2 linked regions of the Homo sapiens genome follow. The protein of the gene in region 1 purifies or fractionates together with the protein of each later gene. This does not show direct contact. Each region holds a gene or a part of one and is shown on either strand. Other genes may lie near its edges.

The links. The genes of interacting proteins can lie anywhere in the genome.
Region 2: the proteins of FAT1 (region 1) and NUB1 purify together in Homo sapiens (affinity purification with western blotting, with the first as the bait; one study listed by BioGRID). This does not show direct contact.

The regions. Positions count from the first base shown.
Region 1 is NC_000004.12:186,713,857-186,717,356, reverse strand, and holds part of FAT1 (protocadherin Fat 1 isoform 1 precursor), read left to right. Parts: intron 1-3,500.
Region 2 is NC_000007.14:151,375,881-151,378,949, forward strand, and holds the end of NUB1 (NEDD8 ultimate buster 1), read left to right. Parts: coding exon 1-63; exon of another isoform or gene 64-753; coding exon 754-931; exon of another isoform or gene 932-1,166; coding exon 1,167-1,345; 3' UTR 1,346-2,569; downstream 2,570-3,069. UniProt on the Homo sapiens protein: Specific down-regulator of the NEDD8 conjugation system. Recruits NEDD8, UBD, and their conjugates to the proteasome for degradation. Isoform 1 promotes the degradation of NEDD8 more efficiently than isoform 2.

The DNA.
Region 1 (3,500 bases):
CTAAGGCTGCTGCTCAATTTCTAGGGTCACAGCTTCCTCCGTTCATGCTGAAAATCATATGAAGATGGGTTGAAAAGAATTAGTGTACACCCAGAAAATAAACAGGATCTACTCATTAGTATTTCAGTGTAAGGATGAAAGCTTTTAAAAGTACCGACATGGCTATGATAATTGAACTAGAAAAATAGAGAGTTTTTTTTTTCCTGTTGTAAATTTTATTTGGAATGTCTGAAATTTTAGAAATCATTCAACATTCTTTTTAATATACAGTATTTTTAAAAAGCCATTTACGCTGGGTGCGGTGGCTCATGCCTGTAATCCCAGCACTTTGGGAGGCTGAGGTGGGTGGATGACTTGCAGCCAGGAATTCGAGATTAGCCTGGCCGTCTCTACTAAAATACAAAAGTTAGCTGGTCATGGTGGTGCATGCCTGTATTCCTAGCTACTCAGGAGGCTGAGGCATGAGAATCGCTTGAACCCAGAAGGCAGAGGTTGCAGTGAGCCACGATTGCACCGCTGTGCTCCAGTCTAGGTGACAGAACAAGACTGTCTCCAAAACAAACAAACAAACAAAAAAACTCGTTTACAATTCATAATCTCTTGACAACTTCATGATCCTGCTTTGAAAATGTGTTTGCCGGCCAGGCCCAGTGGCTCACAACTGTAATCCCAACATTTTGGGAGGTCCAGGCAGGTCGATCAGTTGAGCTCAGGAGTTCGAGACCAGCCTGGGCAACATGGTGAAACCCCATCTCTACAAAAATACAAAAAATTAGCTGGGCATGGTGGTACGCCCAGGTACCCCGGAGGCGGAGGCGGGAGGATCACTTGAGCCTGGAAGGTTGGTGCTGCAGTGAGCTATGATGGTGCCACTGCTCTCCAGCCTGGGAGATAGAGCAAGACCCTGTCTCGGGGGAAGAAAGATGCTTGCAATTTAGAGATCTCTTAAAAATACTTTAAAAATGTGACACTGAACTGAACTCGAAATTCCAAATTTTAATCATGAGTTAAATTCTACTGACGCTTTCACTATGTTGATAGAAAATGAGAGTGGAGAAGAGCACAGTGAGGGAGAACACAGAGTTCTCAACTTAATAATTTTGTGTTTTTATCATAACATGTGAAATGAAAAGTTTAATAATGTCCTGTTCCATAAAGGCTAGAATGACTACTTGTGCTTGTAAGAATTGTGACCGCTCAGTAATAAATATGCGGCGTTTAACAGAATTGGTGCATTGTGTGATGCTGTGTCTCACCTAATGTCCTGTCTCTGTGGCGTGTGAAACCCTTCGAAGACTTGAGCTTGAGGTCATCTAAACACTTGAATATATGCAGTTAGGTTTTCAGCACAGGGGCTGTGTTCTGTTTTGTGAAGAATGTGCAGTCACAGTAATTGATGGAAGCATTTTACATGAAGGTCTCCCTAATGAAGAAATATGAAGATATTAATATCTGATTTTTACTGCAAAAGTTATTTTTCTGCCGTATTTATAGATTTTCAGAGATCTATGCTAAAGATATTTAAGCTTTAGACTGGGAGCCCTTCTCCTTCAAGGCTAGACTAAGTAAACACTCTTTGTTTTGGCTTCGGAAAATGCATTTTAGAAATCCCAAATTGCAGTGAGTTTAAGTAGTGTGATCACCTTCTAAATATCAAAGTATAGCCCTTGGCTCAGATGGTCTTTGGAGTTTAATTTCCATAAGCAAAGGAGTCTAGGCGATAAGGTCCTTTTTAGATGAAATGGTGTTGGAGTCTCTCCCCGCTTCAGCTTTACTGTTTGTTTTGCATGAGAGCCACAGCCATTGTTTTGATCAGGGTGGTTTTTATAGTGAAACCTGAATTCGTGGTTCTTGGTTACATTACTGCACGGTTAACAATGTCTTCCAAAAAGTGTATTTTTTCATTTAATAATTTATTCTACTCACAGTAGCATTCTGTTAGCCAAGTTTGCAGAGTACATTCAGGTTTTTCAAAGATTTCAGTTAGGAATGTGGTCCACAAGTCCGTCCCAGCTGTATTGTGTCCCGTGAGAACTGCTGAGTAGGATGTGGAAGGTAATTGCATGTTTGGGAATCCAGTTGGGGATGAGTGGGTGGTGGTGGGGGCTGTGGTGGGACTGAGCACCTGGGACAGCATGGGGAGAGAACAGCCAAAGCAGTCTGACGTGTTGGCCATGGTCTGTGTGTCTTAGGGGATGGAACAGTGCCAGAGCCTTCTGGTGGGGGGATGGAGGGGGAAGCAGCGTGGCGCATCAGCAAGTACTTTTTTTTTTGTTTTTGAGACAGAGTCTTGCTCTGTCACCTAGGCTGGAGTGCAGTGGTGCGATCTCAGCTCAGTGCAACCTCCGTCTCCCTTGTTCACGCGATTCTCCTGCCTCTGCCTCCCAAGTAGCTGGGACTACAGGCGCACACCACCGCACCCAGCTACTTTTTGTATTTTTAGTAGAGACAGGGTTTCACCATGTTGGCCAGGATGGTCTCGGTCTCTTGACCTCGTGATCCGCCTGCCTCGGCCTCCCGAAGTGCTGGGATTACAGGCGTGAGCCACCGCGCCCAGCTGGATTAGTGAGTATTTATATTATATAGAACTCCAAGTTCTAATGTTAGGCTTCAGCTGTAGAAAAATCTTTATTTACTCACTGTTTCTTATCACACCACTATGCTGTGGTTCCCTTTCCTCCCTCAGTGGCCGACATCTCCCCTGTCAGGGCCTCCCGTTTGGACCCTTCAAATCTTGGGGTTCTGCTCTTGGATTTTTTTTTTCTTCTGCCTGCTCTCTTCCTTGGTGATCTCATTCAGTTCTGTGGTTTTAAATACCGTCTTTCATATTTAGACAACTCTCAAATTTCTATCTGCCGGCTGGAGTCTCCCACATATCTGCTGCCCACTCACAATCTTTACTTGGATAGCCCGTAGCTGTTCCCATCTTACCCTGTCCAAAACTGACCTCCCGATCTGCTCCCTGAGGCTGCTTCTCCTCCTGTCTCCCTCTCGGTTCCTGGCCCCCTTGTTCTCTACGCTGAGCAGTCTTTGGCATCTTCTCTGGTACTGTTCTCTCCTCCTTTCCCTCCCTCTCCCCACTCCAGCATCAGGCAACCTTGAAATAGATTCACAATCTGCCCCCCACCCCCGTTGTGCCCCAGCCCACACGCGCTCCACCTGTGTTGTGGCTGCAGCCTCTGACTGCTCTGGTCGCCCTCCAGCTTCTGCCCTGGCTGCCCACAGGTTTTTCCATTTTACTGAGACCGTGGCACTCCTCGGTTCAGAATCCGCTGGGGGACTTCTCATTTGATTCATACTAAACTCTAAAGTCCTAAAAATTGTCCTTTATCCATGAGTCCAGACGGATCTTGAGAAAAAAAAAGATTCAGGTTGGATGCAGTGGCTCACACCTGTAATCCTAGCAGTTCGGGAGGCCGAGTTGGGCAGATCGCTTGAGCCTGGGTGTTTGAGACCAGCCTGGGCAACGTGGTGAAACCCCGTCTCTATAAAAAATACAA
Region 2 (3,069 bases), on another chromosome or scaffold:
AATGATTCCAATCCTGAAACCGACAACCGTCAAGAAAGTCCTTCCCAGGAAAACATTGACCGAGTGAGTGACAGGCCTTTGTGCCCTCAGCTTGGACAGCCTCGGGTGGGGTTGCTTGGGGTAACCCGGGTGAATCAGGCAGCAGGACTGGGGGAGTCCGTGCTGAAACCTTGGCTCCCAGGCTCCAGGTGTAACCTGCCCACCTCAGAGGCCACCCACGCAGTAACAGAGGGCAGGGGAGGCCTCCTTGGAAAGCAGGAAAACTGGGGAAGTGTCAGGAAGTTCTCTTTAGGTTTGCTGCCTTTGTCTATGCACCACTGTTTGCATCAGCCTCATTTCTCTGCCTGTGACCTAAAAGGATGGCACTGTGACCTGGGAAACCCATCCAGCTTTGTATCCCAAGTGACGGCTCTGTCCACATTTGTGCCCCTACACGCGTTAGCACGCCTGTATGCTGTGGCCACTGACCTCGCGGTGCTCGTGGTGAGGCTGGTGTGGCGCCCTGCTCTCAGCCCGAGGTCACTGCCTGTCCTGAGATGGCTGCTCCCTGACGCACCCGACTTGAGTCTTCCAAGCCCCCTTCCAGGTTGCTCTACGCTCACATTGCACAGAAGCATGACTTGTGCACAAAGGGCCATGGTGCACACGCCGGGAGCTCTTAAACATGAGAGTCGGCTGTCCACTCGTATGGCTGACGGGGGTGGCAGAAGAGGCGCCAGGGGCTGATGCTGTGACCCCTGCGCTCTCCCCTAGTTGGTGTACATGGGTTTTGATGCACTCGTGGCCGAAGCTGCGCTGAGAGTGTTCAGAGGCAACGTCCAGCTGGCCGCCCAGACCCTTGCTCACAACGGAGGAAGCCTGCCTCCCGAGCTGCCGCTGTCGCCAGAAGACTCTTTGTCCCCGCCAGCCACGTCCCCTTCTGACTCCGCAGGTAGGTCTGAGGTCTTTGAGGGCCGCATTGAGAGCAAAGTGTCTTCAGAAGCCAACAGATGTGGCCCTAAGCCACGGCAGATGTGGAGACTGAGGGGGCGTCCCCTGACGTCACCGGGCCGGCCACCTGGACAGTGTGGCCAGCAAGAGGCACAGTCTGAGGTTGACTGTGGTCGTGCAGTGTCCCCAGGACAATCCTCACATAATTCACTTACTCCTGCGGTATTTTATTGTAGGAACCTCTAGTGCCTCAACAGACGAAGACATGGAGACAGAGGCCGTCAATGAGATACTGGAAGACATTCCAGAGCATGAGGAAGACTATCTTGACTCAACTCTGGAAGATGAAGAAATTATTATTGCAGAGTACCTATCCTATGTAGAAAATAGGAAGTCAGCAACAAAGAAAAACTAAATAATGAACAGAAATAGCGCTAATTTTCTGCTTATAAATGCTATCATTATGAAAAGGCTAATGCAGCTCTTTCTGTTCTTACTTTTTATCTGAATTACAAGTCCTCTTTGGGTGTAGGAGGGGGTGGGCAGGGGACAAGTCCAGGAGGGGTCCCAGGGCCTTCATGCGTGGTCTCGGGGAAGAAGCTTCCTCTGGCCTGGCGCAGGCCGTTCCATCTGCCTCCCAGGTCTGCGTCCCTAACCCCTTCCCCAGCTTGGTGTTTTACCCCGAAACAGGAAGGAACAGGGGTCCTGTAGAACAGGGGTCCTGGGGAAGGTGTCCAGGGCAGGGTCCTGGGAAGGGTGTCCCGACCGCTTCCTCTCCAGCTGTGGCTCCATCTGCCCAGCTTGCCTGCCTCCTGCACCCACTGCCCTGACCTTCCTGCTTCCCACGCTGCCATCTCTGCCAGGGTGCCACATGGGTTCCTGTGCCACCCTTTCCCCGCCCCTCAAATCGTCCTTTAAGTCTTCCTTCCAAGTGCTGTGGGGCATAACGATGAGGCGCTGGCCTTGGGGGCCACACCAGGTCGCAGCAAATGGCTTCAGCCTGGGACGCCAGTGTTTTATGCTCTTAGTTCAGTAAAATACGCCCCCGAAATTCAAGATTGAGTGTCAGGCTTTATATATATTCAGCATTCCTCATTACAGAAATCTTCTATTGAATGGGAAAGGTTTAAATGCTAACCAAAGCAATTTATTTTTAATTAATATTTTTAGACTCTGTGCTGTCATACTGAACTCACTGCTAGCTAAGAGACCTATCAGAGATTTAGATATATTTTCTCCAGGTTTTTTGTGGGTTTTCTTTGTTGTTGTTGTTGTTCTAGCCATGTGACAGAGGCTCTTTCTAAAAGTATGTAGTTCGCTGTGTGTCGGCTCCAGCAGTAACCGTCCTCACTGCGCCACGCACTCCTCTGTAGATGTGTGCCCAGTGGGAGTTCCTTCCAGCCCCAGGACCACAGCAGCAGCCAGGTGCCGAGTGGATTGAGTGCCAGGTGCATCCAAGACTTTCCCTCCCTTCCAGAAGGCACTGACTGAAGACAGGATGGATCATGCGGAGCCGGCTGAAATGCTCCAACTTTTTCAAAGTGTGGGTGGTCCAGTTTGGACTGATGGGAATCTTCTTGTCATTCTTTTTAAACGGATGATACCGATGGAAATAAAAGGTGGGAAATATATTCAAAAATTGTCACCCTAATTTTGCATTAATTTACTCAGCCTCCCCAGCTGTAGGTGTTGAAAGTGTCTGGGTGACTAGCTCTTCATTTTGATTGCAGGATGTCTGTTTCCACTGAGTTTTGTGAGGAGATGATGGAAGGATGATCTCAGAAGCAGAGGGCATCTGCTGTGAAAGATGCCGCACGCCAAGCGGGGCTGGGGTGCATCCTGGGCAGGGGACTGAAATGTACCTGTCAGGGTTTGCCTCAGAAGTGCCTGGTGAGCTGAGGTGACGCGGAGTCTCAGCCTCATTTGACACAATGCCACACTTGGATTTGGGGCCTGAATTTAAGCTTTTGGCTAACAAATCGCTGTCCTGCGCTTGGTTCAGGCGTGTCTTCTAGCTTCCCAGCTGTTTTTAGCCATCATAGAAGCAATGCCACACCAGCAGGCCCCAAAACTCTTCCGTGTCTTGTGAAGAGAGAGCCGCAGAGGAAGCCGGCTGTGGAGGCAGTTCTGGGCATGCGC